4 separate regions of the Homo sapiens genome follow, and all the other regions are linked to region 1. Evidence: fine-mapped expression QTL. A gene starts in region 1. Each other region holds a variant in brackets. All regions are shown on one strand. Distances are between the middles of the regions.

Region 1 (8,105 bases):
ATAACACCCCCTAAAAATACACAATCCCATCAAGCTGACTACAGACACAGAATACGAACAGCATAAAAACATTTAAAACCAAAAACAAGAAAATGAGCTCAAAAGCTCTACTTTCTGACATTGGGAATCAGGCCCACTGGACGACTCAATGCTAACTGAAAGGCAAAGTCCAGAAGTCACAGAACTAGCGCTGACCCAATCTCCGATGAGCCACTTCTCCTTACACAGTAAACTGAGGCAAAGCGAGCCTCTGAGCTAGAACAGTTTTAAAGGCCAAAGCCCCAGAGCCCAACGGAACTTGTTGGGGAGGATGAGTCTCCACACTAAGCCTGTCAAAGAGTAAGACTTCCCTGCTGAGTGACAGCGGCTAGCAGCCATTCTGAATTTCGTGAAAGAGGGAGAAAGGGAGGGAGGGAGGGAGGGAGGGAGACCTGAGGAGGCAAAGCACCTGACTAGAGCCGACAGGGCTCAAATCATTCCCCTGTCCAAGAGAAAAGAACTTGAAGAATAACGTTCCCCATCCTCTCATGAAGCGTCGAGGGCCTTTCCACAGGTACATTTTGCTAATTTCACAACCTCTCTCAATTATTTAAATGGCCAAAATACAAAAGGGACATATTTACGGTCATTCGTTCCTAGTTCTGTCACAGGAAAACATATTCTTCTCACCCATCTCCTGTCGTTTGTCCAAACACACGAAATCTCTTTCCCCTACACTGCAGTAAAGAAATCAAGAACTTTTCACTCTATGCAGAATCAAGCAACGAATACCACCCCTAAATTCAGACCGCCAAAGTTGCGATGCGTATGGGCAGGCACTGTACGCTTCGCACATTCAGGGACTTGGTGAACACGCAGGATGTCGTTCTGCTTATTCAGTACAGTACACATTACAAACCAAAGAATAGTCAGAATTGGCCATTTATCCGTGATTCTTCTGCTGCTGCTTCTAAGCCTGAAGAGTTACCAACAACGTTAATATCTATCTGTATCATTACACATAAAGGTCCCCATATGCACCCAAAATGTAGAGCTAGTCATCTGACCCTTCCAACTTCCTGTGCACTGTATATGTAATGAATGTGATTTCATCTGTGTATACCTACATGTATGTATATGTAAACAAATGAATATAGCATCATGATCTGGTTCTCCAAAGCAGAACCGGAACAGCAAAAAACAGAAAGCATTCAAATTCCCCCTTCTGAAAGCTACAAGATCTAAAGAAATGTCTGGATCCCACAAGAGACAACACCAGAGCCAAAGGAAGGTTCTAGTACAACAAGGAGCACACAAGCAACCTCTTCCAGGATGGCATGTGGGCGACACGGGTGTCTACACTCCCTTTTCTGAATGGAAAGGCATATGGCTTCTCCTTACCCAGCCAACATGAATACAATTTGAGAAAATTAGAAAAAGTCAAAGTAACAGGCTCACTAAATATGGCTGACTGCGAAGCAGAAGCCACAGAGGAGGATATGAGTTCTCTCAAAAAACAATCGGGAAGTTTATATCCAGGAAAGGTTCAAGGACTCTTGAGTGTGGGACGGACAAAGTCTGGTTCTCACTGCACAGAAGACAGTAATCAAAACATCAAAAAACAAGGCCACATGACCCTTTTCCCAGTGAGGTAGTGTCAACTGATGAAGGTTGCCCCCTCCTGAGACACAAGAGTCAAGTGGAGGCAAAAATATACCCCGGTCTTCCTCAGACACAGGAGCAACTAGTGTGGCCCCTTTTCACTCAAGCACTAGGCACAATGGAAGCCCTGCCCTACATCTTATTGGGGCGCCCACTCTCACCCAGACAAGGAACTCCGAGAAGAGAGAACAAGTCAGTGTAGACACACAAATGGCGAAAGGAGCACGGTGAACGTCCAGTTGTCTCCATAAGAAAAGGAGGGCAACTCAAAGGGTATTTAGGAAATGAGCTCGCCCTAACCCAGCAAAGTGTAAGAGTATGCATGATCTGGAAGAAGTGTCTGCTTTCCTATTTAGAAATGACTTCAGAGCTGCACAAGCCCCCACTATCCACTGGGTGAGGAAAGAAGAACATGGGCAGCCTGAGTCCCCTTGTCCTGGCAAAAAGGGTCAACGGAGAGTGTGCAGAGGCCCCAAAAGAATCCAAAGAAGATGAGCAGATCAGACGGACCCCTGTGCCAAGGAAGGATCGGGGTCACGGAAGGTAAAGGGCAAGGGAGTGTGGAGATCCTCACTTGCCATAGAAACGGAGACCCCACCCTCCTGGCTGTGAGGGTGCAAGGGCAAGAGTAGGATGTGAACGACTGCGAGGGGCGGGGATGCTGCGCAGGCCCCCTTCCCTTCCCGGGAAGCGAAGGGGGAGGGGTCACACGAGGCCCTTCGGCCGAGGGACGCTCGGCAGGACGGGGTCCCCCTGGCGGGGAGAAGCTCGGGGACCCCCCGCCCGCTCAGGGAGGTGTCCACGGGGCTGAAGAGGGTGCCGGAGAGAGTACATCTGGCCCTGCCCGCCGGAGAGCAGGGGGCCGGCGAGGGCTGAGCGCCGGCCGCTGCCGCCCGACGGGGACCGGCCCGGAGCAGTGGGGCGCGGGGCCAGGAGGACCCGAGGCGGATAAACTTTCCGCCCCGCGGCCCCCACCGTGGACCCAGCGCCGGGGGTGCGGGGGCCGCGCAGCGGGCTCGGGAGCGGCGGGGATGCCCGGTCCGGGTGGGGGAGGCGCCGGCCCTCCGCCGGCTCCTCCTCCTCGCTGGGCCCGGTCCCCGCCCCGCGAGCCCCCCGCCCCCTCCGGCCCCAGCCCGCCCCCGGGGGTGGGGTGTGGGGCGCCGCGCTCCGCCGGCCCCGCGAGTCACCTCAGGACTCGGCCGCGCTCCGCCCCCCCACCCCGCCGGCCCCCTCCCCGGCCGGGTCGCCCGCCCGCCCGCCCGCCGCGCCCCCGCGCTCCCGCCCGGCGCCGCCGATGCCCGGGATGTCCGGCGGGGCCGGGTCCCGCCGCCCGCCGCGCCGCCCCCCAGCCCCTCGCGCTCCGGCTCTTACCTTCCGGCTTGTTTTCGGCAGCCATTTCCCCTCCGCGCGCCACATCCTCCTCCTCCTCGCGACCGGGACCCCGAGCGCGCGCCTCGTACCGCCGCCGCCGCCGGCCCAGCCACCCCGCCGCCGCCGCGCACCCGCCCTGGCCCCGCCCCGCGGCCCACGCACAGCTCCCGTTGGGCCGTGCGGCTGCCACTCATCGCTCCCGCCGCCAATCGCCCCGCACCAGGGGTCTCACTACTCTCCGGGAGGAGCGTCCTATCCATCCGGCCCATTGGCTGGTCACCACCCAACGGACTGAAAGGATTGGTCAAGAATCAACGCCCCCTCCCCACCCACTCCCAGGAAAGCCCGCCTTCCGGACCTAAACAAAGCTTCCTAGTGGCCAGAACCCGAAAGAACTGTCCAATCAGGACGGGCCCGACACGGAATATTTCCTCGAGGCCGAGACGTGGCGTTTTGATTGGGCGTCACTACAGTGTTTCCCAGGCCGTCCAGACCAATCAAAGGGGGTTCCCGGAACTCGGGAGCGGCGAAGGGAAGCCCCGCCCCCGAGCGTGACCGTCATGAGGAAGGCGCTCCCTCATTGGCACGCTGGGGCTTTTCCCGCGTGCTCCCGGGGCTGAAGGACGTTCCCGGGGAAGCCGCTGCTGGCGCGTGGGGTCCCGGTGGCTGTGGGGGACGCGCCGGGATCTCCGGGATCCCGCAGCCCGCCGCCGCTGCCGGTGGGGAGCCGGACGCGGGGGGCCTCGGGGCTGAGGTCCGCAGGGGTGCCGCGCCCTGGAGTCCGACTGCCTAGGAGTCCGGGCGTCGCTGCCGGCCGTGGGGGAGGGGCGAGCCTCCCGCCAGGCCCCGCCCCCTCGGCGCCGCGTCCCCACGGCCCCGGCGCCGCCCGCCTGCGCCCGCCTCCTGTGCCCGCCCCCGGTGAGCTCCGTTGTCCCCTTTTCTGGCGGCTTAAAATACCGAAACTTTATTTTGGTCACGTTGCCCATGTGACCCGCGGAGCGGATGACTCATGGTTGCCTGTCCCAGGATGAGGCCGCCGGCCGAAAGCAGAGAAGCGCCAGCCCCGGCCGCCCGGGTGGAGCGCTGGGCAGCCGAGTTTCCCACCCTCCTCAATCCGGAGAGTCCGCGCGGGGCTTTTCCTAATAAATAGCCAGGCACCCGCTGCCCTCGCGCTGCGTACGGGAGCACGTGCCCCCCGGGAGGTGGGCGCCCGCCAGGTGCCCCGGGAACGAGCCTAGGAACCGGGTCCGCCGAGTGCGGCTCTCGGGGCGGCTAGGCGTGCGGGTGGCTGGGCAGCGCTCCCAGGGACCGGCCTCTCTCCGGAGAAAGTAAGGAATTCTGCTCCTGGGCAGGTAATACCGGAAACAAAAGGAGAGGCTGCAATCGCAAATTGTTTAAAAAGAAGAAAAAGGAAAGAAAAGTTGAATGTAAGAGCTCCAGCCCCTCAATGTGATCTTGTACGGTTTGCAGTAAGAACATTTCATTCTTCCGCATTTTATTTTTCCTTTTGCTACTGTTGGTGACAACTAGCAAAATAAGTGAAAAATCCTCGTTCAAGTGTTCTGGCATTAAGATTGACTGTCACACTGAATTCTGTGCCAATCCTAACAACATGTGTTCTTTTTCTGGTCTTCACAAGTAAGAATGTCTTAGGTTTTCCAGAAATAAAGATGTCCCAAAAGAATGTTTTGTGTTACACACTCATTCTTCAAGAAACTTTAATTTTATGAGCCTCAAAAATTGCAAAATTTTAACAACGGCGGGACAATATTTTATCGATTAGCATTCTTAATAGCACCTATGTTGACGATTTGTGTGGAGAAACGGATTCTTAAAAGAAGTGCTGGTGGCATTGTAAATTAGTATATTCCTTTCGAAAAGCAATTTTACAGTATGTATTAAAAGCCATAAAAATGTCTGCATCTTTTGACCCAGTGATCTTACTTCTGGGAATCTGTTCTAAGGAAATAACACTAAATGCCAGAAAAGCTGTATGTGTGAAGGTATTCTTCACAGGATCACTGTACTTAACTACAACAAAAAATTGGGAGCATCCTACATGTGCTAATATTGGGTATTTAGTAAATTGTGTTACATCTACACAGTGGAACATTATGGTAGTTGTAGACATCAGAAACAGAAAATCACCCATTGCTAGATAGAGGGGGCAATACCCAAAATTATGGTGTTCATTTATGAGGTGAGATGATAGGCTAAAAAAACTGCATTTTAAAAAAGACCGATACAGGCCGGGTGCAGTGGTTCACGCCTGTCAATCCTAGCACTTTGGGAGGCCAAGGTGGGCAGATCACTTGAAGCCAGGAGTTCGAGACCAGCCTGGCCAGCATGACAAAACCCCGTCTCCACTAAAAATATAAAAATTAGGTGGGCAAGGTGGCAGGCGCCTGAGGTCTCAGCTACTTGGAAGGCTGAGGCAAGAGAATTGCTTGAACCCAGCGGGCAGAGGTTGCAGTGAGCCAATATCGCACCACTGCACTCCAGCTTGGGTGACAAGAGCAAGACTCCACCTCAAAAAAAAAAAAAATAGACTGATAACATACACCAAATAAATGACGTATGGGGGATTATAAGTGAGTTTTTTTTAATTGCCTATTTTCTATAATATAGCTGTTTTTGTTGTTGTTTTTTGGTTTTTTTTTTGTTTTGTTTTTTTGAGATGGAGTTTCACTCTTGTTGTCCAGGCTGGAGTTCAATGGCGCAATCTCGGCTCACCGCAACCTCTGCCTCCCGGGTTCAAGCGATTCTCCTGCCTCAACCTCCAGAGTAGCTGGGATTACAGGCATGCGCCACCATGCTCAGCTAATTTTGTATTTTTAATAGAGACAGGGTTTCTCCATGTTGGTCAGGGTGGTCTCAAACTCCCAACCTCCAGTGATGCGCCTGCCTCAGCCTCCCAAAGTGCTGGGATTACAGGCATGAGCCACCACGCCTGGCCTCTATGTTACTTTTATCATTAAAACACTCATTTAAATTGAAAGAAAGGTGAATAAAGTTGAGTGTCTTCCTTCAAGAGACTCCCAACTTGGCCAGGTTCACAAACATAAGCAGCAGCAGGACAGGTGCGATGGGAACACCGGAGAAGGTCACAAACATCACCTGGGCCTCAACACCATCACCATTGAAATTACCTTAGCCTCAGGCCACAACAGTGGTTCTCAAAACAGTGGTTCTCTAGGGACCTTGGTCGAGCAGAGGGAGCCCCAAGACTCAAGGGACCCAAAAGTCAAAACTTTTTTAGACAGGGTCCTGCTCTGTCGCCCAGGCTGGAGTGCAGTAGTGCCATCAAAGCTCACTGTAGCCTCGAACTCCTGGGCTGCAGTAATCCTCCCACCTCAGCCTCCCCGGTAGCTAGAACCACAAGCATGCACCACCATGCCCAGCTAATTTTTAAGTTTTGTAGAGACAGGGTCTCACCTTGTTGCCCAGGCTGGTCTCAAACTCCTGAGCTCGAGTGATCCTCCCACCTCAGCCTCTTGAAGTGCACGGATTACAGGCATAAGCCACCACACCTGACTTCAGAACTATTTTTATAGCAATGATATGTCAATTTCTCCCAACACTGCACTCTGTGTGCAGTGTTTTCCAGAGGCTGCAAGATACGTGATCTCACAACAGGCTGAATGCAGAAGATTCAGAAGCAGAGAAGAATCCAGCAGTCTTCTACTGTCAGATATTAAAGTGATTTGCAAAACTAAAACAATCTCACACTTACCACTAATTTTATTTTAGAAAATGTAGGTATTTCTCATAAAAATAGGATTTATGTTGACATGTAATGGGTTTATTCTCTTTTTTGTTGTTCTTTTGAGATAGGGTCTCACTCTGTTGCCCAGGCTGGAGTGCCGTGCAATCAAGGCTCACTGCAGCTTTAACCTCCTGGGCTCAAGCAATTAGCCTCTTGAGTAGCTAGGAATACAGGTGGGCGCCACCATGCCCACCTGTATTTTTTGTAGAGATGAGGTTTTGCCACGTTGTCCGTGATGGTCTCCAACGGAGTCTTACTCTGTTGCCCAGGCTGGAGTGCAGTGGCACGATCTCGGCTCACTGAAACCTCTGCCTCCCGGGTTCAAGCGATTCTCCTGCCTCACCTCTTGAGTATCTGGGATTACAGGCACCCGCCACCATACCTGGCTAATTTTTGTATTTTTAGTAGAGACGGGGTTTCACCATGTTGGTCAGGCTGGTCTCAAACTCCTGACCTCGTTATCCGCTGGCGTCAGCCTCCCAAAGTGCTGGGATTACAGGCGTGAGCCACCGCGCCCAGCTTGAATCCTTAAATTTTAAGTGTGGAAAAAGATCTTGAGACTCAAGAGTTTGGGAACCACTGGGCTAGAGAATGAGATCTTTTTGGGGCTGGCTGGTTGGTGTTTCTGTTTGCTTGGGAGGGTAACCAAGAGATGGGCATTTCAAGTAAAGGAAGCAGCTTGCATTACTAAATGAGCCCATTTAGAAAAGAGAGTTGGAAGATAACGCTCGATGTACCAATCTCGGAATCCTTGCCCATTTTGGCCCTAATGTCCTTCAAGGAAAGAATTTTACTGTCCAGAAACAGAACATATAAGGGAAATAGTGGGAATATTAAATTGTTACTTTTTGACCCCAAAGAGGTGCAAAAGAGGCTTCTTCCTGGTCAGCTTTCCAAAGTAAAGTGGCTGTTTATATTACTGGTGGTGATAAAAATAAAAGTGCTTGGACTTGCTTCCTTAAATTGGAAGTTACCGAAGCTTCCATATTACTGGATTGGGAGAGGAAAGCATGGAGTAAACCCATTTCAGAAGCTTAAACACTTAGAAGCTCAGGCCGGGCACAGTGGCTCACACGTGTAATCCCAGCACTTTGGGAAGCCAAGGCGGGTGGATCACGAGGTTAGGAGTTCAAGACCAGCCTGGCCAAGATGGTGAAACCCCATCTCTAACTAAAAATAAAAATTTAGCTGGGCATGGTGGCACGCGCCTGTAATCCCAGTTACCGGGGAGGCTGAGGCAGGAGAATTGCTTAAACCTGGGAGGAGGAAGTTGCAGTGAGCCAAGATTATGCCACTGCACTCCAGCCTGGAAGACAAAGCGAGACTC
Region 2 (8,105 bases), 920 kb before region 1:
CCAGAACTGAGAAATAAATCTGTGTTGTTTACAGGACACCTGTCCATGGTACTTTGTTAGAGCAGCCTGAACTAAGGAACTGCACCCGGTTTAGGTGGCGCAGAGCCCAATTCTTGGCTCCAGGGGTGTATGAGCCAGGCCTTATGAATGAGAGGACCATGTCCCCTTATTCAAGAGATTAGACACGTGACTCAAGATGGGCCAATAAGAGATGAGACATTTCCTGGAACTACAGGGAAATAAGAGCTGTCTTCCTGGAGACATCTGGTAATTTGGCAGACGATAAGCCTGTAGCTCAGAGTGGGCCATCTTGCTGCTGCCATATTGGGGACCCTTCCCTGCTTGAGAATAAAATTAACATAGAGGAGGAGAGTGGGGTGGGGGCAATGGGGGAGGCCTAATGACATCATTGTACATCTAGAGCTAGTTCTAGCTGAAGATAACACTAATTCTGGACTTCCTAAGAGTCAATAAATTCTTTTTTTTTTTTTTTTTTTTTTGAGACAGGGTCTCGTTCTGTCACCCAGGCTGGAGTGCAGTGGTGTAATCGTGGCTCACCCGCAGCCTCAAACTCCTGGGCTCAAGCAATCCTCCTGCTTCAGCCTCCTGAGTAGCTGGGACTATAGGTGTGTGCCACTGTGTCCAGCTATTTGTTTTAAATTTTTTTTAAAGATGAGGTCTTGCTATGTTGCCTAGGCTAGTCTCAGACTCCTGGCTTCAAGAGATCCTCCTGCCTCGACCCCCCAACATGCTGGGATTACAGGTGTGAGCCAACACACGGCCAAGTTCCCTTTTTTATGTAAGCCAGTCTGAGGTGGAGTTTTGTCACTTGCAGCATTAGAATTTATCTACAAAACATGTGATAAATGACAGTAGCAATAAACTGTCTTGCTTATTCAAAACACTGATTCAATGTTGACTGCCAAAACATTCAGTAAGACAAGGAAAGGTATACTGAGCTCTGGCCTGGCTGGAGACTATCTGTTGAATTCATACATATGGAGGTATCTTAACTCTTTCAGGCCTTATGCGACTGCTAAATGTGGCGTCATAACAGACACATACCACAGAAAAGAATCACAGCAGAATAGCTGAATTGAAAGAGAATTAGGAAATATCCAGTCTAGTGGCTTTCAACTTTTTTAAACTGTGGTCCACAGAAAGAAATAGAAGCCAGCACACACACTCCCATATGGAAACCAAAAAGCTTCCCAAATCAATACTTACGCTTACTATGTGCAATGCACTCTGATTTTAAAATCTGATGATGGTGACCATGCTTTTCTGAACCACTAATGGGTTTGGAAAACAGGTAAGAGAGCCGGAGATACAAGGTAATTTACATAAGGTTTCTCACTGAGTGAATGGTAGAGCTGAAACACCCAGTGCCCATCCTGCTGTATTATATGAAAGAGAACAGCTGTTACCTACACACATCCCTAGACAGTGGGCTTCTGGCCAATATTCTCAGTCTGGGAAAATGATTCAGGTGTCAGGCCTATTTTACACTGGTACAGTGTCCAGGATTTTTAGGGCCACCTCAAGACCACCTAAGTGAAAACTCACATCCACCAGTTGGCTTTAGATTCACATCCACATAGATTGATTTTCGACCCTCTCACTCCTCCTTGAACTGACCTGCATGGGAAATCATTTGGAGTTTGTGCCTAAATGACCAACAAACAAGACTGAACCAAAGGCACGGAGTAGGATCACGTTTGTCTTGGGCTTGAAGAAACACATTTCATTACAGTCTCCTCACCCTATCTAATGAGTAGCATCACGCTGGATAACTTCTTTGCCAACTAACAGTATTCATGAAACTTCAAGTCCCAGATGGCATTATGCTAGGCATAGTAGAAGATACAGCTTAGGTGGGGCCCCTCTGCACCCCATAAACAGCTGTTAATCTAATCTGGGAGGGGAGAAAAAAAGCTTCATTAATAAGACTTGAGTGAGGCTCAAAGGAAAAAAGAGACAGAATTTAACATGGAGTATGGGTGACGGTAGGCACACCAGCACACCAGCACACCAGCCTGGCTGCGTGTGACAGAGGGCTCATGCTGTGTGGCTGAGGATGGGGTGTGGCCAGCTGGAGAGTGAAACATGATGTATGGGGTGGTGAAAGTCAGGTGAAACACGAAAGCTGAAAAAATGGAGAGAATGATTAATTTTTAGTAGTTGATAAATATTAGTTTAATATAATGGAGAAATTTATTTACATGACTTATCATCACCTTCCACATTACAAAAACATTATGTAGCTTTATGATCAGCACTTTAACTCCTAGAAACATTTACCCTCATTAAACTCCGTATACTTTACCTTCCTCAAAGTAATATTTAATTATTAGTTTTAATTTGCTAAGCAACTGATGTATAGTAGGTGCTTCAAAGATGAGCTGACCAGTCTCTCCACATCATGTCTAAAGCTATGCTCTATTTTCAATGTTTATAAGACAATATAAAATTAAGCAAATTACAGGGATCACGATACTTTATAAACTAAAATTCCAGTTAGTCTATCAAAGGAACTTTACTGAAATAAAGCATTACACAAGATCATACTGGCATTCTCCCCCTCCACTGTCTTTTTCTTTTTTTTGAATCAGGGTCTTGCTGTTGCCCAGGCTGCATAGCAGTGGCATGATCATGGCTCACTGCAGCCTTGAACTCCTGGGCTCAAGCAATCCTTCTGCCTTGGCCTCCCAAAGTGCAGAGATTAGAGGTGAAAGCCACCACGCCTGGCTATTCTTTGTTTTGTTTTGTTGAGATGGGGTCTCACTCTGTTGCTCAGGATGGAGTGCAATGGCACAATCACAGCTCACTGCAACCTCCACCTACCAGGCTCAGGCGATCCTCCCACCTCAGCCTCCTGAGTAGCTGGGACTGTAGGCATGCAACGCCACACCTGGCTAATTTTTGTATTTTTTGTAGAGACGGGGTTTCTCCATGTTGCCCAGGCTGGTCTTGAACTCCTAGGCTCAAGCAATCCACCTGCCTCAGCCTCCCAAAGTGCTAGAATTACAAGTGTCAGCCACCACACCTGGCCGTATTTTTAAACTTACTATTCACAAGGTATCATATCATGGTTTTAATGAGTCACTTGCTGTACTGCCTGTGGGGTGAAGAGTAACTATCTCCTGATGGCGACGGCATCTCCTTGTCTGCCTGTCATGTTAAGCCAAATGTAGTCACATAAGAGAATAGCAAAGAAAAGATGGTCATTTGACTTCAGGGCAATTCACTCAAGAAGAGGAGAAGACTCTAACTGAAGGTCTCCATGACTATGAACGCCAACATCCCCATGACATGATGTGACACTACCCATTGGTATCACCCAGCAGGCTAATAAGCACTTCTGAAATGTTAAATGTGAGTAATACTAACTTGTGGTTTTTAATGTAATTCAATACATCACATCTGGACTTCTCCCACCATCACGCCTGTGATCTCAGCACTTTGGGAGGCAAAGGCGGGTGGATCACTTGAGCTCAGGAGTTTGAGCCCAGCCTGGGCAACATGGAGAAACCTCATCTCTACAAAAAATACAACAAATTAGCCGGGCATGGTGGTGTGTACCTGTAGTCCCAGCTACCCAGGAGACTGAGGTGGGAGGATCACCTGAGCCCGGGAGGTGGAGGCTGCACTGAACCATGATCATGCCACTGCACTCCAGCCTGGGAGACAGAGTGA[A/T]ACCTGTTTCAAAAAGAGCCTCACACCTTTCACTCGGGAAACTTTCATATCAACCAATGCTTTAACTTTGCTATCTTTCTCATATTAAGTAAATAATACTCAGTTCCACTTGTTATTCACGTACTGGATTCTAGAACAGCCCCACATGAATACACTGCAGCAGTGACAGCTCTTAGTAAAGGCCCAGTTCAGTCCTAAATAGAAGACTAAAGAAAAGCCTGGGCCAGGCACGGTGGCTCACGCCTGTAATCCCATCACTTTGGGAGGCTGAGGCAGGCAGATCACAAGGTCAGGAGTTCAAGACCAGCCTGGCCAACATAGTGAAACCCCATCTCCACCAAAATACAAAAATGAGCTGGGCATGGTGGCGCGCACCTGTAGTCCCAGCTACTCGGGAGACTGAGGCAGGAGAATCACTTGAACCCGGGAGGTGCAGGTTGTGGTGAGCCGGGATCATGCCACTGCACTCCAGCCTGGGCAACAGAGCGAGACTCCGTCTCAAAAAAAAAAAAAAAAAAGAATAGCCTGAAATAATGCATCCGCCAGGGTATCACCAAAGCCAAATCCTTAAATAATACAAACAAGACTGTTATTAACGAGTACATGAAATACTGTATTTCCATTTGAGTTGTTCAGATTATAATTAATCAGGACGACCTCATCAAGGTCTCTCAGGAATACACAGCAGTTCTCTGCTTCTTTTCACTACTAGGTTAAATTTATTTAGGAAATGCATACGCTGTAAGTAAATGCTATTTTCTTGGACATTAAACATTATTACTCTCTAAATCTAATACAAAGAAAAAGAGAAACAAATTTATTTGCTAGTGTCTAATTCTGGTCTTGGAATAATAACTATTTTTTTTCTAAACACACAGCAGGAAAAGTGCTTCTGCATAATGCATTTCTCTTGATCCGGTTCCCAGCAATAGTTTCTCGATAAGACACAGATTCTGCAGGGAAACGGAACACTTCAGTTCCTCAAGGTAGTAAGAGAAAAAGACTCCTTGTATGTAATAGCCAGACATTTTATCGATAAAACTTGGGAGCACAATTTTAAAAAGTCAGGGGTTGGCCTCACTGGTGGAAAAAATATAATGCATTCATTCAAGCAACCAAACACAGGAGGCATTTCTGTAGTTATCTGAGGGCACCTCTCACGTTTACTGAGTCCGCTTCCGGGATTAGATACTTCAGGCTGCCAGCAGAAATCCTATCAAGTAAAAGTGGGCAAAATAGAAAATGGACTTTAAAATTGTCGTCCTTCCCTGGTGAGGCAACTGATTAAGAAGACAGTCTGCAAGAATATCATCATTTCAGAAATCTATTCTGATACCTGATTTGTAGAGAAATGCTTTTGATGTCTGCAGTAATCTACAGAGATCGAAAAAGTCTCAAACACCAGAACGCCATCAGCGCCACCTCTAAAGAGGCGCAATACCTAGAAACCCAATCACCAGAGCTCCGAAAATGCAAAAGGGCCACCCCGAGCATCTATCCTGGCCCATCTGCGCGTGGAAAGTGCTCTCTGGTCGCCAGTCTGCAGGGAAGCAAAGCTCTCAGAAGTTCCTCCGAGCCTTCCATCCACTTTCAGGACTGCCCTGTGCACGCGGGTGAATCGAGCGTCCCTCCGCTCCCCTGGTCTGTAGTTAGAGACAGTCCCCCGTCGCCCGATCCCGCACCCGCTGAGGAGCGCAGGGCTGTGCCCGCACCTCGCCTCGCACCTGTCTGCCCAGGGAAACCGGGAGCTCCGCGGGCCCCGCCGCGGGAAGGAGGCGGCACTGGGTCCCAAAAACCCGTGTTGAGGAGAAGCCGAGCGCCCCAACACACTCGCCGCCGGCCGGGCCGGGCCCCCGCGCGCCCCGACGCCGCCCCAGCCCCGCCCGCGCGCGCCCGACACGCTCGTCCCCGCCCTCGCTCCGACACAGACACACGCGCGCGTCCTCGCACCACTCCAGAAGCTCATCCGGCCCGCGCGCGCACCCAGACACGCGTGGCTCACACCCGCCGCACACGCCCCTCGCACAAACACGCGCGCCCCTCACGCCCTCGGCCACTCCAGACACACGGCCCCGGGCCCCACGCAGGCTCGGGCGTCGACACACCCTCGCGGCATGGACACGCGTGTCTCCCACCCACTCCTCGGCCAAACGCACCCCTCCCTGCAGCCCCTCACCCTTGCTCCTCACACTCACTCCCCACTCTCGCCCCAGAAACACGCCCCTCACACCGGGCCCGCCGGATCCCCACACTTCCCACTCGCGCCAGAAACGCGCGCACCCTCGTGGCCCCTCCCTGCCGCGCGTAAACACGCCCGGTCCGCGCACGCCCTCCCGGCCTGGCCCCGCACACTCGCGCCAGAAACACGCGTGGCCGCGCACCACGCCCCCGGCCCGCGAGCACGCGTGTCCCCACGCCCCGGCCCCGCCCCCGCCCCGCGCGCGCCCCCGCCGGCCGCCGCCCTCGACCGCACGCGCCCTCCGCCTAGCCCCGCGCCGCCGCGCACCTACCCGGACCTGCTGAGCTCGGCTCCTGCTCGTCAGGCTTGCGCCGAGCCGCCGCTCACTGGCTCCCGCGCCCCGCCCGGCCCCGCCCGGCCCGGCCCAGCCCGGCCCCGCGCCCGCTCAGCTCCACTCGCCGCAGCTGGAACGACTCGCGGGGCTCCGGGTACCGCGGTCTCCCCGCCACTGCCCGAGTGCGCCGCCCGGACCAATGGCGGGGCGCGGCGGTGAGCTCACCGGACCAGACCCCGCCCCCCAGGCCGCGTGGTCCAATCGGAGGATGCGACGTCACCCGGAGCCGGGCAGAGGCTGGTGCGGGGCGCGGAGCCGCTCGGCGCGGGGACTGCGCCGGAACTGCGCCCGAGCCGCGCTGGACGGCGGGGGCCCGGCCGGAGGTTGCGGGCGGAGCGCGGCCCGGGCGTCCCCGCGCGAGAGCCGGGCCCCCGGTCCCTCGCGACGCGGTCCCCGCCGCTCCGCCCGCCCGGCTCAGCGCGGCCCGCGAATGGGGCGGCGACGGTTCCCTCGAGGCCGGGACGGCTCGGAGCCCGACGGCTGCGCCCGCTGCCCGGGCCGACGGCCCCCGGAGCCCCGCGCGGGCCTCCCGTTCCCCTTCCCGCGGGGCCGCCCCGCGCCCGCCCTGCCTGGCTCCCCGCGCCGTCGGGGCCGCCCGAAGCTCCGCGCCGAGGGCCCGCGTTCCCGGGCTCGGGCTCCCTGCGCGGCCCCGGCGCGCCCTGCGGCGGCGGCGTCTGCAATGCAGCCGGCGGGAGGAGCCGGCGCTGCGCAACGAGCGGGGAGGCGTGGGGGCCAGGCTGGAGGGAGGGGGCCGGGGCCCGAGGACCCGGGGAGGGCCAGGGCGGGGCGGAGGACGGTGGGCGGGGACGGTGGCGGCGGCTCCGGCTTTGGGGAGGGGGTGCGGCGCTGGGCCCCCTTAGCTGGAGTGCAGGCTCCGCCCACCCTTTGGGTCTAACCTCCGCGTTCCAAAGTTCCAGCTCCAGCCCTGCGCACTTGGGGACTTCTGCGTGAGGGTCTCTCGCCCCGGCCACAAATCCCGAGCCGCACCTCTTAATCGAGGCTCAGGCGTCCCGAGCGGATCCCGCTTTCTTTTTTCCCTGTGCTGTTTGCAGTCCCACGGCCTCGCACAGAGAAAGTGCCTGACCCCAAGACCTGTGATGAGACCGCCTATTTTGTTTTTGTTATATACTAATAGATATAGATATATAGATACAGTCAATTATCTGTAAAATCGGCCATGTCTCTGCCACCTGGGTAAAAAGGTGTCTCGAAATTGGGGGCGGAGTCTCTTTTCTGACCCTACCCAAACGCACACAGAAACAACCCCAACATTTGCAGAGCCCTTAAGCCTGTACACCCAATGAGGAATCGCTGGTTAGAGGCCGCGTGAAGGACACCCTGACCAAGCTGGGTCCTGCCCATGCCGGTAGATCGTCCATGGCTTCCCTTGGGGGCTGCCACCCACTGTAAACCTGAGCAAGTTCCTCTCCTGTTCCGAAGCCTGCCCTGGCAAAGCCCCAGTACATATTCCAATCCTGCTCTAGGTCAGTATTCCCACTGCACCTGTCTACCCCTCGCCCGCCCCCCGGGTCACCACGCAGGACCCCTTGCACGCTCCCCCCACCACCTTTGCTATGCAACTCCTCCCCTTTATCTGCTAGGGAGACTCCTATGCATTCATCAAGGTCCAGCTCAAATCTGGCCACCCTCAGTGGCTTTTCCTGACGCTCTCAGCAGAACCAAACCTCCAGCTTTGTTATGTGTTGGTGTTGCAGTACACAGTGAGTGAGTTCTGTTTGTTTTCCAGGGCGGCAATGAAAGGGTAGTCATCAGGGACACATAGGCTCGGGAAACCAACCCCCCTGGGTTCAGAGTGGGCTCGTTGCTAGCTGTGTG
Region 3 (8,105 bases), 940 kb before region 1:
CTTTACTCCAGATGCCATGCCTCTTTGTTAGAAATCTGAAATCTTGCAGATCACAGGTCTCTTCCATGTGAAGCCTAAGAAGTTGACTCTTCAGTTAGAGTTCAGTTCCAAGCAGCATGGCAGTTGCCCTTTGCAGGATATTATAAACTCCTCTGCTTATTCCTGATGCTGCTAAGCCAGACAACCATTGATCTCGGAACCTACTTGGAGATCGTTATGCATCCCATTGAAATGACTTGACTGAATTTTAAACCTCCATAGCCACAGATCTGTGATTTCTTCTGCAAGTCTACAAATCTTGCATCTGGTTAACGAGTTTTCAGCATCCATTTCACTTGTTCCAGAGCACTCTGGAACCAATCTGCAACTGAGTGGCCAAGATCAACATCCGGTGGCAGACAAAGGGGCAGAAAAGCACCAAAGGTGCTCTCTGAGCTGTGGTCAGCCTGGAGCGAGCCTGCCTGCTGCCCGTGGAGGTGGCTTTGTGCTGCAGTGTGCTGCAGTGCGGTCCCCGCATCAGCTGTCCCCTGCCCATCCCCCCGCCAAGCACGGGCACTGCAGAAACAGACCTTCCCTGACATCACTGAGTCAGGCCCTGCCCACGGCGTCACCCGGTCAACCCCTCCAACAGTCACAGTGACTCTGTGTGTGCCACAGAGGTGACCAGCTTTTGTTCCCCAGCTGCATTCCCTGTTGCTATGCCATGAGTGCATGATATTAAGCTGCTCTGAGAAGCACCTCATGAAAATACTCAGAAGCAATTATGTGCCTCTTAACAAAATCATATCATGCATAACGGCATCTCTGAGCCTCTCAATTCCAAAGGGGAAGCGAGTGATAATTAAAATAAAAAACCAATCTCAAATGCAAATGACTGAGCTGGCACCCAGGGAGTGCGGTCTGTTGCACTGTGCTATGCAAGTTCAGAGAGACTTTCTCCTCACATGTCCTTTCCTCTGCACGGGGCCAGGGCCCAGCTCTTGAGGTTGTAAGGCTTAGATGGATAAAATGATGGTCTTTACATCTCCACACTAGCAAGCCAAAAGCAACGCCTTTACGCTTGTTTTGGTTTTACAGCTTTATTAGGATAATTAAAACACTGTGAAATATTTGGCAAATTGAGAGCTGTGCATTGCTTTAACTGTATGCTGTGTGTGATTACGGGATATAGGGAATACAATTACTTAGAAGCAAAGAAGAATTTCTGATTACATTAGAGTAAATAAGTACATTTGAAAGATTCACTTATTCATGCACAAATATTCACTGGAGCACCTACTATGTATGCACCAGGCAGTAGGGAGTACTTAGAACAGCAGTGAAAATATCCTTGCCCTCTTTTGTCGACCAACAGATAATTTCTGCAGCCCGAACAAACCTGGAGTTTTAAATTAATACAAAGCAGAGGCTGGGCGCGGTGGCTCACGCCTGTAATCCCAGCACTTTGGGAGACCGAGGCAGGTGGATCACAAGATCAGGAGATCCAGACCATCCTGGCTAACACGGTGAAACCCCGTCTCTACTAAAAATACAAAAAATTAGCCGGGTGTGGTGGCGGGCGCCTGTAGTTCCAGCTACTCAGGAGGCTGAGGCAGGAGAATGGCGTGAACCCAGGAGGCGGAGCTTGCAGTGAGCCGAGATCGCGCCACTGCACTCCACCCTAGGCGACAGAGCGAGACTCTGTCTCAAAAAAAAAAAAAAAAAAATTAATACAAGGCAGAGAAAGGGGAGTAGGAATAATGCGTAGATTTAGGGAGCTGATGAGTTTGGTCCTAGTTCTTACCCATGATGCTTCAAACAAAGACAACAGGGTGAGCTTTGAGGGCTTCCAAGTGGATGTCCTTAGGACAGTCCAAGTGAAGCAGCTGAACTACTCCATCGGGAGAAAATTCTGCACAGAAGGAAAGTTACAAGTGCAAGTTTCCATGGGCACATGAGGCTCAGAGGTGGCTCAAGGCCACAGGAGGCTCCAGAGGTCCCCGCAAAGAAAGCCAGCTGCTCTAGCTCCACTTCCTGCCTGGCGGTTCTGAGATTTTTAGTTCTTATCCTGAAATATTAGGCTATATCCGTCGCACCGGAAGAACAAGTTCCTGCTTCATCACAGAACAGGCACTCTATATTTGCTGCAGCGAGTGAACTCTGGGCAAGGGTACAGAAAAGAGGTGCACAGAGGCCTGTTTCTAGTAACACAGGCTGGCCTCCTGTTGAAGACATGAGGATGACAGACGCATAACCCAGAGACAGACACCACCATCCTAAGCATTTTACCCAAGAAAATAAAAATTTACATAACATTTCTACACATACATGCTTCAGTAAAAAACAGTATAAAGAGCCACCTACTTAGAGCCTTCTAGGTATCAATACAAACCTCACAAAAGTTAGTTGCAATGATACCCTACCTTCAAGTGGGAACAATGACCAAACTTTTGTGGCCACATAGGAGGCTATAAATAAATACATATAGTTTGTATCCTGCGGGGTGTATAGGTGAATGTTAGATCCAGAACTACACTGAGCTATCAGCCATGTCCTCCCCAGCGAAACTATAAACTTTCTGAGGGCATGGAAGAGCAGGGCAGAGTAGGAAAAGGCAAAAGCAAAAAAAAATCCTTTGACAGACAAGGAAGTATCAAATGATACAAAATAAAGTGTCAACTGGGCTGAGGTTCCCCAACTCTTAACCCCTCTGGGTAAGTCCCATAACTCCTGGATCTAAAGACTCAGGCAAAGTGAGCTCTGAATGATGTCTTACTTCTGGTGCAGAACCTCTGGGTGTGAGTCTCAGCTTCCCTTCCAGTGGCAGACTCTCCGTGCGTGACCCACCTGCCTGTTCCCGGCTAGAGGCCGTGTGCTGTGAGTCTGTGTGTGACCCACCCGCCTGTTCCTGGCTGGAGGCTGTGAGTCTGTGTGTGTGACCCACCCGCCTGTTCCTGGCTGGAGGCTGTGTGCTGCCCTAGATGGCGGCTTCTGCTCATCCCAGTGACCATTCCTCTAGACCAGAGGTTCTCAAACTTTAGGAGGGCTTCTTAAGACAGACTGCTGGGCCCTATTCCCAGAGTTTTGGTCCAGTGGGTCTGAGTGAGACCCAGAGGCTGCATTGCTAACAAGGTCCCAGGCAGTTCTGATGCTTCTGGTCTAGGGCCACATTTCAAGAACCGCTGCCCTAAGACCCTGGCCTGTTTCCACAGTGAAAGAATGACTCCTCTCTCCTCCACCCAAGTGCCTGTTAAGAATGATCCCAGAACCACCTGCTCAAACAGAAGCAGAGATTCCTACCCAGCATGGGTATGTGAGGCATCACCTCATGTGAACCATGCCAGAGCCATCCGCAGTAGCTCTGTTGACAATAACTGGGTGCACATTTTCTTCTCAAGCACCCCAACTCAGACCAGGCGATACTCGAAAACGATTTAAAACCCAGCCACCTGCACTGCTGTCTGCAACGGATCAAGTACTCCTCTACCATTCCCATTGCATCTGACCTCTTTATTACTTTGTCCTTTACTCAGCTGACAACATGGGCTGTCTTTCCAGGTGTCTGTCTCCGCCTCTCGTGTTTCTCTAAAGCAGTCTATTTTCCTGAAAGGTTCCAGGGAATGAGGAAGGATACATTCACCTTCATGCAGTAGTTCCTTCCCGCTACCTTCCAGACATGCACGCGCATGTAAATCCCCGGACAAAAACTCAATCATTCTGACGGCTTTCATAGCAACCGTCCGGCTCCTGATTCATTCAAAGCTTCTCTTCATGAACCTCTTCTCCCTGTGCTCCTTTTTTGTGGAAGCAGCAGTTTCAGCCTGGGCAGCTCTGAGACAGTGCAAAGAACACTGGAGTAGAAATAAGAGCCCCAGGTTTAATCCTGTCACTGTGTGACTTTGGAAAAATGATTCCCACTTTGCACCTCAATTTTCTCATCTGTAAAATGGGGATATTTATATACATATCCCTTCTTGTTTGTGAGGATGAAATAAACTAATACATGCGATCTTTTTTTTTTTTTTTTTTTGAGAGTCTCGCTCTGTTGCCCAGGCTGGAGTGCAGTAGTGCGATCTCGGCTCACTGCAACCTCCGCCTCCTGGGTTCATGCCATTCTCCTGCCTCAGCCTCCCGAGTAGCTGGGACTACAGGCATGAGCCACCACACCTGGCTAATTTTTTGTATTGATGGAGTTTCACCATGTTAGCCAGGATGGTCTCAATCTCCTGACTTCGTGATCTGCCCACCTCAGCCTCCCAAAGTGCTAGGATTACAGGCGTGAGCCACCGCGCCCGGCCCATACATGCAATCTTTTGAAGGAATATGACTCTCTTATGCCTGAGCTAGTAGACTGGGGCCTTCTGCCCAGCCCCATCTATGGGAGCATGGTTAAAAAATTAAACATTTTTTCGAGTAATTTTAGATTTACAGATAAGTTGCAAAGATCGTAGAGTTCCCATATGCCCCTCACTCAGTTTCCTCTAACATGGTATCTTATGTAACCATGGCACAT[T/G]TGTCAAAACTAAGAAACTAGTATTGGTATATTAGAGCTATTAACTAAATTAAAGACTTGAAACCGATTTTAGCACTTTTTCCATGAATGTCCTTTTTCTGTTCCAGGATCTAACCCAGGATCCCGCATTGTGTTTAGTTTTGAAGTCTCCTTAGTGTCCTTGGATCTGTGACAGTTTCTCCATATTCCTTTACTTTTCAAGATTTTAACAGTTTTAGGCCGGGCGCAGTGGCTCGCGCCTGTAATCCCAGCACTTTGGGAGGCTGAGGCCGGTGGATCACCTGAGGTCAGGAATTTGAGACTAGCCTGGCCAACATGGTGAAACCCATCTCTACTAAAAATACAAAAATTAGCCGGGTGTGGTGGTGGGCACCTGTAATCCCAGCTACTTGGGAGATTGAGGCAGGAGAGTTACTTGAACCCAGGAGGCAGAGGTTGCAGTGAGCTGAGATCACACCACTGAACTCCAGCCTGCCAGTCTGGGTGACAGAGTGAAACTCTATCTCCAAACAAAAATTTAACAGTTTTGAAGAATACTGGTCAGGTATTTTGGAGACATCCCTCAATTTAGGTTTGCCTGGTGTTTTCTAACCCTTAGACTGGGTTCTGGGTTTTTAGGAAGAGTATCAGAGGTGAGGCACCCTGCTCATCACATACAATCAGAGGTATAATGATGTCCTGGAGAGGTCAGCCTCCATCATTTGGTTAAGGCAATGTTTGCTACATTGCTGTACTGTGAAGTTACAATTTTTCTCTTTCCGTTCTTTGGAACTAAGTCACTAAGTCCAGTCCCAACAACAAGAGGGTAACTAAGTTCCACCTCGCAGACGGGGGAGTATCTACATATATTATTTGGAGTTCTCCTGTAAGGAAGATTTGTCCTTATTTATTTATGTATTTAGTCAATCACTTATTTATATCAGTATGGACTCCTGTACATTTATTCTAAACTTTGGGTCACAATCTGATACTGTTATTTATTTTGTTGCTCCAAGTGTTCCAGCTTTGGCCATCAGGAGCTCTTTCCGGCTGACCCTTATGCCCCTCTGACGTGCCCTCATCCTTTTTTCTTCCTTTTAGCACTTCCTTCCTTTCTGGCATTACAAGATGCTCCAGATTCATCTCTCATTTCCCCTGTGCCAATCCTAGAACTGTCCATTTCTCTAAGGAGTGGAGCTTTGGTTCTTTTTATTGGAGAACGGTATTTAGAAATGAACATCTGGGTGCTGAGCGTTCATTGCTATTGAGGTATCACTGCTTCTAGGCCTTCTCGATGGGAAAGCTAGGAAATATACGTATATATGTATATATCTACCTGTATACACACTAATGTAAACATGAGTTCCTACTGATGTCTCTGTGTCTACTATAGCACTGCAGTGTTTATTAGAGCCTTCTGAGGGTATTTTTTTTTAGAGCTGCGGTCTTGCTATGTTGCCCAGACTGGTCCTGAACTCCTGGCCTCAAGCTATCCTCCTGCCTGCCTCAGCCTTCCAAAGTGCTGCAATTACAGGCATGAGCCACCATGCCCAGCTGGCATTTTAAAAATAGATCAAATGATGATGAAAGTAACTGTGTGTGTTACCTAGCTGTAATAAACCGATAAATGAAATGCTGAAAAGAAACCTTATTGATATATTAAACTAAAAAAAAAAGAGACCTTCAGGTTTAACTCCTGTATCTCAAAAGTATAAGCATAGGTTATAGTATAGTAGTATATTCATTTACCTTATTATACTTCAATTCTTAGTTTCCAACAATATTAGAAAGCATAAGTATAAATAGAAATAGACTCATAATCCCAGAATAGCTTTGAGTATTACAACGATCAAGAAGAAGATGAAAAAACTCTTCCAAACAATGGCCCAAGGGTCAAGGAATGGTTAGTTGGGGCTTCAGATTCCCTTTTCTTTTGCTGGGTCGACCCCATCCTAGCCTCTCCATCACAGCTGTTCCACGAAGTGTCACACAGCACAGTCATGGGACATCTTTTCCTCTTTCTCTGACAGGGGTTCCTAACCTTCAAAGGGACTCACTTTAAAATGTCCCAAATTAATATTCATTTAAATGTTTAAAATTCCTTAGCAATGTTTTAAAGACAGAGACAATTTCATGAAATCAGACACCCACAGTGTGTTCTAAGTTTAGAAGGGCTGGGATTTGCTGCTGTAAAAGTGGAGAATCCCGAGTGTCTGGGCGTCTGCTGTGAGTGAGAAAGTGTCTATGCCAGGAAACCAGCTCCTAGCCAGATTTCCCAGGCCCTCAGGCCCCAGCAGCACCTACTGCTTCCTCTGGATTTTACACAACTCACTTTCAATCTTCAAATCTAATCAATTTTCCTGGTTGTACTGAGCAATACACCAGGAGATGGTTCCTGATATTTTATCAGATAATTTAGTTTAAAAAATTAAGTCCCTCCTCTGTCTGGGCGTGGTGGCTCACACTTGTAATCCCAACACTGTGGGAGGCTGAGGTGGGCGGATCACCTGAGGTCGGGAGTTCAAGACCAGCCTGGCCAACATGGCGAAACCCCATCTCTAATAAAAATACACTGCACTCCAGCCTGGGCGATGGAGTGAGACTCTGTCTCAAAAAAATAAATAAATAAAAATAAGGTAAAATAAATCCCTCCTCCTGAACATACAAAATAAAATGTAAACTCTTTGTTGTGACACAGAATGGACTGTTCTTTACCAACCATCCCAGGCTACGTTTCTAGGGTTCTCTCATAACTCAATGTTCTCCAAAATTCCTGGCTCACGACCAGGAATTTTACTTACCTCTGGGCCTCTGCCGAGGCCAACCTTTCTCCTCATCCACCTGGTGAACTTCTTAACTCTTCAGAGTGTGGCTCAGACATCACTCCAATATTATTAATAATAATAATAGCAGCTACTGGACATCTACAGTAAGCCAGACATTTTACATGGATTATGTCTAATCCTCAAAATGACTCTGAAATAAAGATTTTCCCCTTCATTTTCGGATGAGGAAGCTGATGCTAAGAAAATTTGTTACTTACCCAAGAGCATACCACTTGTAAGTATCAGGGCAGAGATTTGAACACAGACTGGACTCCAGACCAGTGTTCTTTCTGCTATGCCTGGTAAACCTTCCACATTTTGCCCTGGGTCCTAACAGTACTGAGCCAATGAAGGGATAGTTCTTTTCCTAGGTGTCATTCCTGCTAGAGGCTAGAATGTGAGCTTTTTGAAAGCAGGGACCTTGTCTTGTATCCCTAGCACCATTCAGAAAGTGAGTGCATGTGGAAAGGATTATTTTCTAATTTAAGCTCCTGGGAGCCTATTTATTGATGAGGTCATCCAAACTCTGGGGCAAGAACCCTGAGCAGCCTCCGCTCCCCAGGTGCAGTCCAGGTGGCTCATATACCAGTGAGCAGCTTTATCACCTGTCCAGGGGCAAGAGAGGATGGTCAAAGTGATCCAAGGCCAGCAGAGCTGACTTGGAAAGCAAGTGTCTGCCCGGCTGGCTGCCATCTGCTTTAAGCTCAGGGAAGGAAACCACGCAGCTACAGTGAAGACTCTGGAAGCAAGGCTGGGTATGAGGTGACTTCTTCACAGGCACACACTGGAACTTCCCAGCAGTGTCACTT
Region 4 (8,105 bases), 99 kb before region 1:
TTTCTGTTTTTAACTGAAGAAAAATTTGCCCCATTTCCAGAGGCAGAGAGAGGAGGAGACATCTGGGTAAAGGCAAACTAAAGTATATATTAAACACACACATACGTATACAGATGAACAGGTATGTATCTACCCCCACCCACATACTATACACATGTACATACAACCATATATGTCTGACTTCTTCGCCTATGATAATCCAAAACTGGGTCTCATACAATGGTCTTTTTGCAATCGTTACAGCATGACTTTTATTGGGTTGTAGGTTTTATCTTTAAGAGGCCACAAAACTTTTTTAAAAGATCAAATAAAAAATTAAAGGTTCAAAGAAGATCAAGGCTCAGATTCAATTAACACTAATTTTGGAAGAATTTTTTTACTTACTATGCATATTCAGCAAACTACTTAAGTTTTGGGTTTTCTTCTAACATAGCAACCCAGGGGAGTCATTATGTACAATCAACTCCCTAATTCAGATTAACATATCTAAGTACATATTGATACAACAGAACACAATGCTTGCAGAGGCTCCCTGCTAGAGACTCTCTGCTTAAGCACAGGACTAAGAAGGTGGACTTCTTAAATTCCATTTCCAGCACTTCCCATTGTTACTTCCTGGGCCAGTTTCATAGATTAGAAGAATATAATACTTCAAAGGGATACTCTGGTTTCCATGAACAAAACGACTAGCATCTCCCAATTAATGTAACATCCTAACAAGTGAAAGATGACTTCTAAAATGACCAAAATGACCAAAAATGCACAGTGAAGCTGAAGGCAAGCCCCAGATCTGTTCTTTCATTTCTCTCCCTCACTATTTTGGGGGAAGGGTCAAAAAGGGAGTGGCTGTAGATAAAACACTCCACACTGTGCTCATGAGTTTTCATGGGATGAGCTGGAAGCATGTGGTAGGGTGTGGAGGGTTCTGTCTCATTTGCTTCCCAAATTTGGGACTGATTTCCAAACAAACCTCAAATCAACTGAATATCAGCACAGCTGTTTAATTCCAGTGGACAAAATGTGAGTAAAACATCGCCTTCAGGCCTGTGCCCAATGCGCAGAGGCCAGTGACTTTCACAAGTCACAAGTACCTAGAACAGGTACTGAAAAGAGCATGCTGCGAGAAGAGCTGTGGGCTTCTTACAAGGAAAGCACGAGTGACATTTATGGCCTATTTCCCTAGTAGTTATTCAACTAAATAATTAGTTACTTAAGATATCAGCACAACAAATTGAAGATTTCAAGGCAATCAAATGTCAATTACATTTTTTTTAACATAAAATACGAGTTCCTCTGGAATCAGACAGCAGCTTCTGACTTGTTTTCCATTGCTCTTTGCACATTTGCTTTCTGCTACCAAAATTTTAAGACCTGTATAAACAAAAACAGTATTTATTCTTCTCTTCCTCCAAAACACTTATTAAGTTTACATTTTGGGCTTGAAGGTATGTTACCCCACTGTCACTTCCCCCATCCATCCACCCATAACCACGTGCAGATGGTGGGCTCAAGGAAAACAAAAATAAGGGAGGACCAGCACCCTTGCCCAAGGAGCTCCCACTTGAGTGGAGTAAAGACACCAACAGAGATAAATCACAATATGCTATGGCAAGGGCCCGCACAGGACATGGGAAGCAGTGCCCAGGGTAAGAGTGAACCAAAGGACAGGCTGTACTGAACACAGTTCCCAAGAAAAGGTGCATGGGAGGAGTGGCATGCGGGCTGCCCTCCAGGGGAAGGACTCGTGCAGAGAAGGGAACAGCAAGTAGGAACGGACAGAAAGAGTGTCCACACATCAGGGGAGGAGGAGGGGAGGCAGCAGGTGAGATGCAGCTGGGTGGGGCATGTTGCACTTCATCAGGAAGGGGTGGGTTTGGTATTTCTCTGCTTTCACCTGCATCTACATTCAGAGGTAGGAGTTTCAAGTTAATGAATACTTTATTAGTAGAGACAAGTCCAAATGACCAGAAAAAGAACCCACCAGAGCAATGGCATGCATGTGGACTCTGCAGCCTGAAGACGAGGGATGGGGGCAAAGGCTTGCCTACTGCAGACCAAATACCTGCCCTGGTTAAGGCTACGCTGGCTATGCTGGTTAAAGTTTAAGTTTCAGCAGCAAATTTCTGAAGGAATGAATGAACTGCAAGTTTAAATGTTATACTTTGGATGGTTTGAGCATTCTAATGACTCAGGTATAAATAGAAAATAATTTTTTAAATGTCAGAACTCTCATTTTCTTAATCCCCTACACACACACACTGACCTTCACTTTCAAAGAAACTAGAATTGTGTGTGTGCCAAATTAATTATACTAACAATGCCTTTAAAAAGCTAATATTTTTAAAAAAGCAAATACTTCCATAACATGTGTTGTAATTTACAAGAGGTATCATAAAATAGCTCTTCTTTTGCTGGGATTTATTCCAGTCCATTCATCATAAAGATTTCTGTGTGAGGGGTGACTCTGTAAGCAAAACACCATTTAGCAGGAAGAAAAACCTCAAAACAAATTACAAGAAAGCCATTAATGTTCTTTTAATTTCTTGCTTAATTTCCACTTCTTGGTATCCATACACTTCCTCATCAGATGGAAACATTTTAATTAGAATAAAGAGAGTTTAAGAAAATGTATGTAATGAGTAAGCTTTCATTATTACTAAAAGGCATTAACTGAGCTTTCTGTCATGTGAATACAATGGTGCGGGAAGGAGAATACTTTGTGTAAAAGATAGGAAAGCAACACAGTTAATGATAAACCAGAGTCTCTACATGCTCCTAGGAGATTTCCAAAGGTGGGATACTGACATGCTCTAGACTGCTTAGACTGCGCATTCCCAGGATTTTAGCACTACAAAATGAACAAGTAATTATTCCTTCAACACATAAGGCATCCAAGAACACAGGGTTCACAAATACTTCCTCAAAATGGGCTCGCTTCCTAACAGTGGGGTTTGTAGGATTTTTGAGGGTAATTTTTGAGAAGAATTCTTTGGTTAATTATGATACTGCAGGCAACAAACTAAAGGGAAACTGAAGTAAGCTTAAACCTGATAAAGGTACAGAATTGGGGCATCCATTAACCTCCTCCTTGGAGGCTTTCATGAGAGGCTCACATGATTAAGATGAAAAGTAACATGTATGCTGCTGAGACGCTCCTGTTTACTCTTTCAAAATATTTTACTTTTTCCTGGCCTACGAGGCTAAAAAATACCTGATATTATCAATTTTTATTCATCTTTAAAAACACATTGTGTGGATCAAAGCCAAACAAAATTGTGTGTGTGTGTGTGTGTGTGTGTGTGTGTGTGTGTGTGTGTGTCTCTAGAGAATAAGCTAAATTCTCTGCATGGTAAAAGGCTGCTAGGTTCAGCCATCGAAGCACATGACCTCTACCAACTGCCATGGTGTCCCCTCCTTCCTCTTCAGCCTTGCTCCCCTCAGAAGGAGTGAGAAATGGTTTTAGATCTACACGGCCAATCCTTCATGAACCACGACCTCCTTGTTCCTTTAAACACTTCCCCTGTGATAATCCTGGACTACACTCCATGACCATCCCATGAGCTGTCCAGTAAGG[C/A]AGCCACTGAGCACCTGAAATGTGTCTACTTCAAATTAGAAGGTAATGGAAATATAAGATATATACCAATTTCAAAGACTTCATACCAAAATAAGTAACTTCTCAATTTTTATACTTACTACATGGTCATGTAATGTAGACTTACTGGGTAAAATAAAATATATTACAATATATTATTAAAATTAGTTTCCTTTATTTTTACCTATTAAAAATATGGTTACTAGAACATTAAAAATTACACGTGACTCACTGACACTGCTACTGTACAGCAGAGCCCCTGACCTTGATGTAACCAAAACTGACCCCTCCATGATACCGATTTCAAGCCCTCTATCTACTCTTCGACTATCCCAACTCCAACAACTCCTCGATCCTATTCCTTGAATCCACTGACCCCATGACCTCTTACTGACCCTCAGCTCCTTCATGCCTCCTGGCTCCTTGCCTGGCTTAGACCACATGGTCTATCCTCAATCCTCACATCGATTCTTCTGCGCAATGCTCAACTCCCTTATGCCTCCTCCCTCCACTGTACTCACCTGGCAAAATCCTAATCCCAGGTTAAATCCAACTCCCTGCCCTCTCCTGCCCTCTCCTGCCCTACACTTAGGCTGCCGAAAGCAGAATTCCTTCAGAGCACCAGCTCAGCTCCCTATCCAGTCGTTTTTGCTTGAACCACCTGGAACTGGGCTTTTATTCTCACCATTTCACTCATACAGCTCTTATCAAAGTCACCAACGATCGCCCCGCTACCAAGCCCACAGTGAAACCCGTCTGTTTCTTGCTCCAGCTTTAGCAGCATCTGACATAGATATCACTCTGCTTTGAAACATGAGCTTCCTTGTCCGGGCGCGGTGGCTCACACCTGTAATCCCAGCATTTTGGGAGGCCAAGGCATGTGGATCACTTGAAGTCAGGGGATCGAGACCAGCCTGGCCAACCCAGCAAAACCCCATCTCTACTAAAAATAAAAAAATTGGCCAGGCATGGTGGCACACACCTGTAATCCCAGCTTGGGAGGCTGAGGCAAGAGAATCACTTGAACCCGGGAAGTGGAAATGGCAGTGAGCTGAGACCAGAGGGACATTCTGTCTCAAAAAAGCAAAGCAAAGCAAAGAGAAACATGCACTTCCAGGACACCCCCATCTCCTGTCTTCCTTCTCTGATTGCTTCTCATTCTCCTTTGCCTCCCTTCTACCCGCTTCCCCTTAACATTGGGTGTCCCAGGGCTCCATGTCTGGACTTCTCTATTGTATACACTCCCTAAAAAATTTCATCCAGTCCTACGGCTTTTAGAACCCCCTATATGCTGAAAACACTCAAAATCTAGCTCCAGCCTCAGCCTCTCCTTGAAGTTACAAACTCAAACATACGACTGCCTATTGAACATCTCCACCTGATCTTACAGTCAACAGGTGCAAAACACAACCTACATTCTCTTCACCCCTCCTCCCCAACCTGCTGTTCTCAGTCTTCCTGATCTCAGTAAAGAAGAATAGCATTCTTCCAGTTACTCAGTGCAAAAACACAGTCATCATCCCTGACTCTTCCTATATTAATACAGTCTACCAGCTCTTCCTTTCAAACATAACCCATATATGACCATTTCTTCCTGCTCTGTCCAAGGCACCATCAGTTCTTGCAACAGTCTCCTCACTGGTCTCCCTACTTCTATCCCAAACCAGGGATCAACAACTCTTTTCTGTAAAGGGCCAAACAGTATAGATCTTTCAGCCTCTACAGGCCATATGCTCCCTGTTACAACTACTTAGCTTGGCTGTTGCAGCTCAAAAGCGGCCTCAGATAATACACACAAGAGTGTGGCTCTGTTTCAATAGAACTGGAACTGGACACTGAAATTTGAATTTCATATAATTTTCATGTGAAATAAAATACTGATTTTTTTTCAACCACTTAAAAACATACAAAGCATTCTTAGCTTGCTAGCTATATAGAAACAGGCAGTGGGCCAGAACCTGCCATGGGCTGTGGTCTGCTGGCCCTGCCCTGGAAGATTCTCTGCACTACATTCAGAGTGATTATTTTATTTTATTTTACTTTTATTTTTTTGAGACAGAGTCTCACACTGTCTCCCAGGCTGGAGTGCAGTGGTGCGATCTCCACTCACTGCAACCTCTGCCTCCCAGATTCAAGCAATTCTCCTGCCTCAGCCTCCCGTATAGCTGAGATTACAGGCAACCGCCACCATGCCCAGTTAATTTTTCGTATTTTTAGTAGTGACAGGGTTTCATTATGTTGGCCAGGCTGGTCTTGAACTCCTGACCTCAAGATCCGCCCACACTGGCCTCCCGAAGTGCTGGGGTTACAGACGTGAGCCATCATGCCCAGCCCAGAATGATCCTTTCTGTCATGTCTTTTTCCTGCTCAAAAATCCTCAGGTGGCTTTCCTTCTCTTTCGGCAAAACCAAAAGACCGTGCCAAGCCCTGCGGGGCTGCACAGGACACTACTTCCTGGCTCCTCCCCTCCCGTGCCCCTTCCCACGCTCTGCACAGCAACACAGGCCTCCTTGTCATTCTCCTGGCTTCTCTCTCGCCATTGCCAAATCTATCTCTGTCTATCTCAGCGCCTTTGCTTTTGCAGTTCCCTCTGCTTGGAATACTCACTCTAGACACCTACGTGGTCACGGTGTTGCTTCCTTCAAGTGGTCACAGTGTTGCTTCCTTCAATTCACCTCATGAGAGATACCCGCTCAGTCACACTAGAATAGCATGCACAAACAGACATGCAAGAACCCTCTCACTGTGTACCTTGCTGCACTGTTCACCACACTATCACTGACATTTCTTTCCTTCTTTAGAAATAAACAGATTGGGCAGTTTTTTAAAAGAGAAACAAAATACCACAGTGATTAAGGGCATGAAATCTGGAGTCCAATGACCTGGACAGGAATGCAACAGCACCACTTACTAGCTATGTGACACTGAGCAAGTTAATTCAACTTCTCTGTATCTCGGTTTCCTTGTCTATGAAATGGGGATAATGACAGCAGCTACTTCCTCAGTATTCTGAAGAGTGAGTTAATAAATGTAATTGGCATATATAAGCACGCAATTACTGTTATTTATTTTTGTTTTTGTTTATTGTTTATTATTATTCCTCTCCCCCAACCAGAAAATAAGCTCTTCGAGGGGAATAACATGGTTTTGTTTATTGCTTCATTCTAGATACACCTAGGACAGTGCCTAGTACTCGGTATTCAATAAGTATTTATTGAACAAACAAATATTTGAATTTAAGTCACTCTGGGGTGGGCAGAACACTCCACTCCCCTCCCATGATCATACAGATATCAGACAGAACAAAAGCTTCCTTAAAATCTGTTAGAGGCCGGACATAATGGCTCAGGCCTGTAATCCCAGCACTCTGGGAGGCCAAGGCGGGCGGATCACTTGAGCTCCAGAGTTTGAGACCAGCCTGGACAATACAGTGAAACCCTGTCTCTACAAAAACACAAAAAGTTAGCTGGGCATGGTGGCATGCCCCTGTGGTCCCAGTTACTCAGGAGGCTGAGGTGGGAGGACTGCTTGAGCCCTGGAGGTGGAGGTTGCCATGAGCTAAGACCATGTTATTGCACTCCAGCCTAGGCAACAGAGTGAAACCCTGTCTCAAAAAAAAAAAAAAAAAAAAAAAACACTTTTAGAGGCTGGGCCTGGTGGCTCATGCCTGTAACCCCACACGTTGGGAGGTTGAGACAGGAGGATCATTTGAGGCCAACAGCTCGAGACCAACCTGGACACATAGTGAAACCCTGTCTATACAAGAAAAACAAAAAAGTTAGCTGGGCGTGGTGGTATGCACCTCTGGTCCCAGCTACTCCAGAGGCAAGCCTAGGCATTTGAGGTCACAGTGATGATCATCGTGCCACTGAACTCCAGGCTGGACAACAGAATAAAACCCTGTCTCTATTAAATTAAAGATAAATATAAAAAATAAATAAAATTTAAAAAAAAACCCTACTAGAGAAAGAGAAATAAAAAGCCTACCATTCCAGGTGGGTTTGCTGATGCTTCTCTATTTCCTACCCTGAAGCGAGGCATAATGCCGTTCTGAGTAACAAGTGGTTTCACTTTATAAGAAACCTCCCACAGGGCCAGGCATGGTGGCTTATACCTGTAATCCCATCACTTTGGGAGGCCAAGGCAGGAGGAACACTTGAGCCCAGGAGTTCGAGATCAGCCTGGGCAACAGAGACTCCGTCTCTACAAAGCCAAAAAAAAAAAAAAAAAATTAGGCGCAGCAGCAAAGGTAGTCCCAGCTACTCGGGAGGTTGAGGCAGGAGGCCTGCTTGGGCCTAGGAGTTCAAGGTTGCAGCAAGCCATGATTATGCCACTGCACTCCAGTGGGCGGGTTCTTCATCTGGGTGACAGAGCAAGAACCTTGTCTCAAAAAAAAAAAAAAAAAGAAAAAAGGAAAAGAAGCCTTTATAATCTAAACCTGTGTTGTATACTCAAAGGTTACATGTTCAGGTCTTGAACCAAATTAGAGAAGAAATAGATTTCATAGTCCGGT

Direction of the effects. Alleles are on the strand shown, and positions count from the first base shown. SD is a standard deviation of normalised expression in the study named. Not every link is listed here.
For the expression in cerebellum of the gene that starts at base 3,134 in region 1, allele T in region 2 goes with a higher level than allele A (moderate effect, 0.43 SD a copy in GTEx).
With allele T in place of G in region 3, the expression in prefrontal cortex of the gene that starts at base 3,134 in region 1 is higher (small effect, 0.20 SD a copy in CommonMind).

What was found. PIP is the estimated chance that this variant, and not a neighbour inherited with it, causes the effect. A credible set is the group of variants that fine-mapping cannot tell apart.
Region 2: its variant is the best candidate, but not a certain one, in a credible set for the expression of CAMTA1 in cerebellum (GTEx, PIP 0.81).
Region 3: its variant is the best candidate, but not a certain one, in a credible set for the expression of CAMTA1 in prefrontal cortex (CommonMind, PIP 0.72).
Region 4: its variant is the best candidate, but not a certain one, in a credible set for the expression of CAMTA1 in whole blood (INTERVAL, PIP 0.61).

What each region holds. Positions count from the first base shown.
Region 1 is chr1:6,780,483-6,788,587 of GRCh38, reverse strand. It overlaps CAMTA1 (calmodulin binding transcription activator 1), which reads right to left and starts at 3,134. Exons shown (of 23, transcript NM_015215.4): 1 at 3,013-3,134. The coding sequence starts at 3,057. CAMTA1-DT (CAMTA1 divergent transcript) reads left to right here and starts at 3,608. Exons shown (of 3, transcript NR_149049.1): 1 at 3,608-3,930; 2 at 4,365-4,439; 3 at 4,543-4,696. RefSeq lists silencers at 2,382-2,561, 2,572-2,841, 3,052-3,211, 3,552-3,961, 4,092-4,151 and 1 more and enhancers at 3,417-4,091, 4,092-4,768.
Region 2 is chr1:7,702,996-7,711,100 of GRCh38, reverse strand. The region is part of intron 11 of CAMTA1 (calmodulin binding transcription activator 1); the gene reads right to left. LOC105376689 (translation initiation factor IF-2) reads left to right here and starts at 6,539. Exons shown (of 5, transcript NR_188653.1): 1 at 6,539-7,753; 2 at 7,871-7,990. RefSeq lists a silencer at 6,199-6,618. The variant A/T (reference allele first, on the strand shown) is at 3,697.
Region 3 is chr1:7,720,723-7,728,827 of GRCh38, reverse strand. The region is part of intron 11 of CAMTA1 (calmodulin binding transcription activator 1); the gene reads right to left. Among named protein-coding and RNA genes, the nearest start is that of VAMP3, 47 kb to the left of the region's middle. The variant T/G (reference allele first, on the strand shown) is at 4,493.
Region 4 is chr1:6,879,506-6,887,610 of GRCh38, reverse strand. All of the region lies in intron 3 of CAMTA1 (calmodulin binding transcription activator 1), which reads right to left. Among named protein-coding and RNA genes, the nearest start is that of CAMTA1, 98 kb to the right of the region's middle. The variant C/A (reference allele first, on the strand shown) is at 3,575.